Homo sapiens: one gene and its partner. The protein of the gene in region 1 interacts with the protein of each later gene in a biochemical or structural test. Each region holds a gene or a part of one and is shown in the gene's direction. Other genes may lie near its edges.

Region 1 (3,827 bases):
TTTAAATTTTGCTTGTTAAATTGCATGTTTTAACATATCTTTTAACAGTTAATTCAGGACAGCAGAAGAGAAACTAAAAATGTGAGTCTCTTGCTTCAGAATGGAAATGTTGGTACCTTTGGTTCTCACTGAAACACTGTCTATACCACCATTAAAGAACCTGTTTGTGTAGTGGTATCTATCTCTTGTCTGTGTTATGTTCTTAATGTTCCTTTTATCTAACCTGTGGAAGATGGCATTAAACGTTGTTTTAATTAGTAACAATAATAGGCTTTCTCACTGTTTTGTTACCTTCAAGAATAGTTTTAAATTTAGTATTTTGGTAGGAAATTCAGAGATTTCCTAGATTTCAGAGATGGAATTGTATTTTTGGACATTTCCTTTCCTCTTTAAAGATCTTGAGATCTGTTCAGTACTAATAGATCTAATGCTTCTTTCTTATGCTTCCAGTTAGTTTGCACTTGTTACCCTATATATAGCTTCACATATGCTTCAGAAGCTTAAGCAAATTAAAAAAACAAATGGGGACTGTGAGAGTTTGAGACTGTTTTCAATTCTTGATAACCATTTTAGAGGAAAATTAAATAATGTATAAATTATTCAGACTCATCGCTATTTCAAGATTTTCTGCCATTTAGCTCCTTTCCTTAATTATCCAGATTTAAAGTTCTGAACTTCAAATAAAGGTTTATAAATGTCTTATCTTCTCTCAGCCCACTGTGCTCAGATATTAATCAAACCATCTAAATCACTGCACAAGTTTTATTTCATTCATGACGTCACACTGAATGTGCTCTCTCTCCTTAAGATTTCATTTGGTATGTCATTCATGTATAGTTAACAAACATTTAAAAATCTAATTACTCATTTTTAAGTTAATGTGTAACATAAATATACTACTTATATTTAAATGTAGTTCACCTTAACTGACATACTAAAGACAGATTTTAGCAAATATTTTGATTCAGAATGATACCTCAAACTACCATTTTTCTAACTGCCATAATCCTCTATTAAACTTATATAATCCATTTTTAGATTGTAAGATCTTAAAGAATACCTAAAAAAAACCCTCTTAAATGTTGATGAATTGTTTTTCCATTATAAAGTCATTTTTGACTTTTAGAAGTCAAGACTAATACATTTTCTAGAAAACAAGGTACAAAAGCACTTGTGATTAATGGTAGCACTAGATTTCTTTCAGCAAATCCTTAAGAGTACAGAGGTTGAGGGGACTTCTGTTGTTTGTCACATTCCGCATTTGAAACAACTCACAGTGACTGTCAGCCTAAGAATAGCAAATGTAGTCTTGCTTTTTGTTAAAGAGTTCTTACTTATACCTTATGGCATTTTTGTTGACTATTAGAAATGTAAATTGAGAAACATATAAACTCTTAAGTTCAGAGACGTAAGTTCATGGAACTTTTAGAGTTTAACAGTGTTAATGATTACTTAAGAAATTAAACTGAATAGCAGTTCTTTGTGCTTTTAACGAGTAGTTTTGTTTTTAAGGGCAGCATATACTTTTCCTACAATTTAGTGTTTGAAGGGTGGGAGAAGAGGAACGATTTTGAAAAGTTAGCGAATGATAAAGAAAAAAGGAATTAAATAGAACATAAGTTGGTTGATGCCTTGCAAACAACTTAGAGCAGAACTTCTTTATTATTTAGATAGGTCAGGGTTCCAGTTATACATGCTACCTAGTGTCTCCTTCTGACCTCATTATCTGTCTGAATAAACTTCAGATGGGTACTGGATGTATATTGACTACTGTCAAATAAAATGAACTTTGTTTTAGTTAAGGTCAGATATGATGTGGTTGGTATGTTTTGGAACATGTTTTTTCAGGTTGCATCTGGAGGTGGTGGGGTTGGAGATGGTGTTCAAGAACCAACCACAGGCAACTGGAGAGGAATGCTGAAAACTTCAAAAGCTGAAGAGTTATTAGCAGAAGAAAAATCAAAACCCATTCCAATTATGCCAGCCAGTCCACAAAAAGGTCATGCCGTGAACCTGCTAGATGTGGTAAGCCATGACAATTTGGTTTAGGTAATAAGGTAGGTGACCAAGTTAGTAGGAAAACGATTAGACAGAAAGAACTAAAAGTCTCAAAAACTTACATAACTTTCAGATGTTAAAGCTGCCATTTTAGTGTCACAAAAGTAATATTTTTTCCCCCTCATCCCTATTTAGCCAGTTCCTGTTGCACGAAAACTATCTGCTCGGGAACAGCGAGATTGTGAGGTTATTGAACGACTCATTAAATCATATTTTCTCATTGTCAGAAAGAATATTCAAGACAGGTTAGTATTACTTAATATAAATGACGGACTTTAATACTTCTGGATGATTCTGTGATCTGTTTTGAAAAATACATGTATTTTTACAATTTTAGGTTTTTATTCTAAATCATCAAGTGGATTTTCTGATAGTCCTTGGGTAACTTGTAGCAAGACCCATTTTGTTAACATAGAATGACTAGGACCTCATGTATCAGCTAGAAAAAGCTATTAAAAATGAGAGATTCTTTTGTTCTATCTGGCTGCCACATTTTGAGTCATTTAAGAAAATCTTTTTCCTAAATTTTAATTTAGTAGTTTCATTAATTATTTTGGCTAGTAACACTGACTTGCCTTTTTAATTTAACTTGGTTTTCCAAAGTATCAAAACGAATGTCTTTTACTAGGAAATATGTGTATTTTTTCTCGTTCAGAATGTTTTTTCATGTGTCTAGTCCCTACTGCATCTTCTCCTTCATGTTGCCTGGTATGTCATTTCATGCAGTAATAGGGAGAATATACATTTAGTTGTGTGAAGTGATCTATTAGAAAATATTCTGCATCCAGTTTTTGGTAATCTGTCAGCAGCTAAGATGAATTTTACTGCACAGAGTAATAAACAGTCTAATACTTCATATTGAAATAAATGATTTTTGTCTGTAGAACCATTTATCTTTTTTGCTTGTAGACTTTTTAAACCCGTAGCTTGTAGTAGAAATAACAGTTCCTAGTGTTTTACACTGTGGGCCTGAAGAAAAAAATTCCATTTGTTTCCTTCCTTGCCCCCATCCTCTGCAGAAGGTGTTTTTGAGATGGAGTCTCGCTTTGTCGCCCAGGCTGGGGTGCAGTGGCGCAGTCTTGGCCCACTTCAACCTCTGCCTTCTGGGTTCAAGCGATTCTCCTGCCTCAGCCTCCTGAGTAGCTGGGATAACAGGTGTGCACCACCATGCCCAGCTAATTTTTGTATTTTTAGTAGAGACGGGTTTCACCATGTTGGCCAGGCTGGTCTCGAACTCCTGACGTCAGGTGATCTACCTGTCTTGGCCTCCCAAAGTGCTGGGATTATAGGCGTGAGCCACTGCACCCGGCTCACTTAATGTTTTTAAGCCTCATCCATACTGTAGTATGAATCAGTATAGTCACGCACCACATAACATTTTAGTCAACAGACCACGTATTTGAATGTGTTCCCGTTAGATTATGATACCATGTTTTTGCTGTACATTTCCTATGTTTAGATACACAAATACTATTGTGTTACAGTTCCCTATTCAGTACAGTAACATGCTGTACATGTTTGCAGCCTGGAGCAATAGGCTATCCCATATAGCTTAGGCGTGTCATAGGCTATACCATCTACGTTTGTGTAAGTACACTCTGTGCTGTGCATGTAATGAAATCACCTAATAATGCATTTCTCAAAGCATATCCGTGTCATTAAGTGACATATCTTTTGTGTGAATAATACTAGATTATGTAGATATACTGTGTTTAAGCATTCATCAGCTGATGTTTGGATTTTTCTCACTTCTTGGCTATTATGAATAA
Region 2 (3,827 bases), on another chromosome or scaffold:
TCTCTACTGAAAATACAAAAATTAGCTGGGCATGGTGGTGTGGACGCCTGTAATCCCAGCTACTCTGGAGGGGGAGGCAGGAGAATCACTTGAACCCCGGGGTGGAGGTAGCAGTGAACCGAGATTGTGCCACTGTACTCCGGTCTGGGCAACAGAGCCAGACTCTGTCTCTCAAAAAAAAAAAAAAAAGGTACTGATACATGCCACAACATGGATGAACCTTGAAAACATGTAAAGTTTAAGAAGCCAGACAACAAAGGCCATATATTGCATTTTTCTACTTACATGAAATATCCAGAGTGGCCAAATGAATGAAGACAGGATACAGAGCAGTGGTTGTCAGGGGGTTAGAGGAGAGGGGACTTGAGAGTGACTGCTTAATCAGTATGGGGTTTCCTTTTGGGCTGATGAAAATATTCCGGAATTAGATAGTGGTAATGATTACACAACGTTGTGAGTGTACTAAATGCCGCTGAATTGTACACTTCAACATGGTTAAAATTGTGTATGTTATGTGTGTTTTAAAATAAAAAAGAAAATACCTCCAGACATTGCCAAATGTTCTCTACAGGGCAAGATCACCCCCTACTGAAAACCACTGACCTATCTCAAGAAAGGAGAAGGCTTATGAGGAAGCCTATAAAATTGTTGTCTGAAAGCCTGATTGATGCAAGGGATAAATTTGTAGAAAGCAGTTGTACTTGAGTTCTTAAACTGGCTTAAAGAATCCAGGTGAGCCCTTGAGGAGGGCTTAAAACATAACATAAATAATCCCTTAGCTCAAAGACAGTTTAAAAATGTGAGGCTTGGCTGGAAGAGAGGAAGTTGACAAACACTTTCAATATGCCTAATCTCCACCAATATTTGGAAATCAGCTCTAAGATAAGACCATTGCTTGGTGATTCTGTCTGCTGGGAACTAACAAAGCAACTGTTCAATAAACCATGTGATCTGGGCATGAAATACAAAATGCCCAAGTCATGACAGTTTTCAGTGTTCCTACAGTAGACTAGGCAGTGTGAATGAGGAGAAAGAAGCTGTAACACTGACATTACCAGCTCTTCTCAAAAAGGAATCCGAACTGGAGCCAGTGGGGAAGGATCTTCCAGAGAACAAGAAAGAAGAACTGTAAAGAAAGAGTTGGAAAATGCTGCCTGTAAGAAGATTTGACACAACCTTGAACAGTGTGACTAAGTCAAAGATGTGGACTCTGCCGTTAAATCCTATCAATCAAGCCGTGATATGCTTTGAAAAAATCAGCTACAATAAACCCTAAGAGCTTTGTGAGAAGGCCATTGAAGTTGGAAGAAAAAACAGACTGGTCTAAAGATAGAGAGTAAAAGCTTTTGCCCAAGTTGGCATCTCTTACTTCAAAGAGGAGAAATACGAGAATACTATTCATTTCTATAATAAATCTTTGGAAGAGCACTGAACCCCAGATATACACAAGAATCGTCAATAGTTAGGAATTAATCTGGAAAGAGCAAAATCAGTTGGCATATATAAAATCTGACCTGATTTTGGAGGAGAAGAGTAAAGGCATTGAGTGGTTTCAGAAATGGAACTATCTCCAAGCCATGCCAGCTTTATACAGAAGCCATCAAATGGCATCCTCCACAGGATGCCAAATTCTACAGCAGTTATATCCAAAGTGTACAGCCAGAGCTGGAGGAGTAGAAGAAATATCTAGCTAGATCCACCCTTAACACAGATTATACTTAGAAAGCAGCAGCCTTAGAATCTGAAGGATGACACAAAAGCCATGAATGTCTAGCAGAAGGCCCTAGACCTGTAATTCTACCGTAAAGAAGTAGCAGATGGTTATTGGTGCCCAGTTCAATTGATATGACAACGCTAAGGATGTGAAGCAAAAAACCATAGCTATATGACATATCCTAAAACAAATGCAGAAGGGCTCCCAGGGACTCAGTGAATATTTAAAAGGGTCCTGTGGAAGCTTAGAAAATCAAGAACTTCATGAATATGGGTCTGATCACACTTTGGTGATGGTTTCTTGAGCTCTTTTTCCTTCCTCATCACTTCTGGAAAGAGGAGCTGGGACTGCAATGAGCAGAATGGAGCAAAAGTCTGGAGAGAAGAGGAAAAGCTGAATTGTATATATGTTTACACATTCATGCATGGAAAATTCAGAGATGGACACTTGCGTTCTTTGTACAGCTACAGTTTTATGGCCCTCTTAGCACAAGCATGGTCTCGTCACTCCTGACAAATTGGGCTATGTGTCCTTCCCAAAACCCGCAGTCACTGGCTTAACTGTTCTCCCCATGATTCGTGATTTTAAATTTTGGACAATGCACATGTTGGGGAGGGAAGATATTTATCCCAACTGTTCAGTCTACATTGATAATTTGTACCTTTCCCCCTTCTGCATAAAAGTCCCACAGAAAATGGGGGTGAGTATAGAGGAAAAACACGAAGGCTCTGAGTAGATTCCTGAAGAAGAGGTGGGCTTTGAACAGATTGAGAGAATCAGCCATCAAAAAACCTAGAGGACATTTACTTGCCCAGGAATTTATGAACAATCAAATTTAACTTGGGGTGTAAGCATATTAAAGGAGAATTGTATGCAAGCATGCAAAGTGTCTAGTGCTACATGTTATATAACTATGTAGCACTAGACACTGTGACCCAACTTCCAGGAAGCTGCTTGAACTTAGGAAACTATTTCTCAGCCTCCGGGATGAATAAAACTAAGTGCATAACCACTGAAGGATGATTCTGAAAGACATTTTAAAATTCTGCATTGAGGCCAGGCACAGTGGCTCACATTTGTAATCCCAGCACTTTGGGAAGCCGAAGTGGGTGGATCTCTTGAGGTCAAGAGATCACCAAGCCTGGCCAACATGGTGAAACCCCATCTCTACCAAAAAATACAAAAATTAGCTGGTCATGGTGTGTACCTGTAATCTCAGCTACTCAGGAGGCTAAGGCATGAAAATCTCTTGAACCCGGGAGGCAGAGATTGCATAAGCCAAGATTGTGCCACTGTACTCCATCCTGGGCAACACAATGAGACCCTATCTGGAAAAAAAAAAAAATCTCAGATTGAAACAAAACAAACATCCAGGCCGGGCATGGTGGCTCACACCTGTAATCCCAGTACTTTGGGAGGCCAAGGTGGGTGGATTACTTGAGGTTAGGAGTTCAAGACCAGCCTGGCCAACATGGTGAAACCCTATCTCTACTAAAAATAACAAAAATTATCTGGGCGAGATGGCATGCACCTGTAATCCCAGCTACTCGGGAGGGTGAGGCATGAGAATTGCTTGAACCCAGGAGGTGTAGGTTGCAGTGAGCTGAAATAGCACCATTGCACTCCAGCCTGGGGGAACAGAGTGACACTCTGTCTCAAAAAAAAAAAAAAGAAAAGAAAAACATCCACCTGGGATTACAGGTGTGAGCCACCGTGCCCAACCAAAAACATCAATAAATATTGATTGATATTTTGAAAATCTTAATTTTCAAGTCCTTAATTCACACACTATTTGTTTTTTTACTATAAAGTTTAATTTTTTAAAAACCATAATGTCGGCCGGGCGCAGTGGCTCACGCCTGTAATCCCAGCACTTTGGGAGGCTGAGGCAGCCAAATCATGAGATTAGGAGTTCGAGACCAGCCTGGCCAACATGGTGAAACACCGTCTCCACTGAAAATACAAAAATGAGCAAGGTGTGGTGGCACACACCTGTAATCCCAGCTACTCAGGATGCCGAGGCAGGAGAATTGCTTGAACCCGGGAGGCAGAGTTTGCAGTGAGTCAAGCCGAGATTGTGCCACTGCATTGCAGCCTGGGCGACAGAACAAGA

What was found.
Region 2: the proteins of DNM1L (region 1) and MFF form a complex in vitro, tested with the Homo sapiens proteins (one study listed by BioGRID).

The regions. Positions count from the first base shown.
Region 1 is NC_000012.12:32,738,216-32,742,042, forward strand, and holds part of DNM1L (dynamin-1-like protein), read left to right. Parts: intron 1-48; coding exon 49-81; intron 82-1,848; coding exon 1,849-2,025; intron 2,026-2,193; coding exon 2,194-2,303; intron 2,304-3,827. UniProt on the Homo sapiens protein: Functions in mitochondrial and peroxisomal division.
Region 2 is NC_000002.12:227,334,999-227,338,825, forward strand, and holds part of MFF (mitochondrial fission factor), read left to right. Parts: intron 1-3,827. UniProt on the Homo sapiens protein: Plays a role in mitochondrial and peroxisomal fission. Promotes the recruitment and association of the fission mediator dynamin-related protein 1 (DNM1L) to the mitochondrial surface.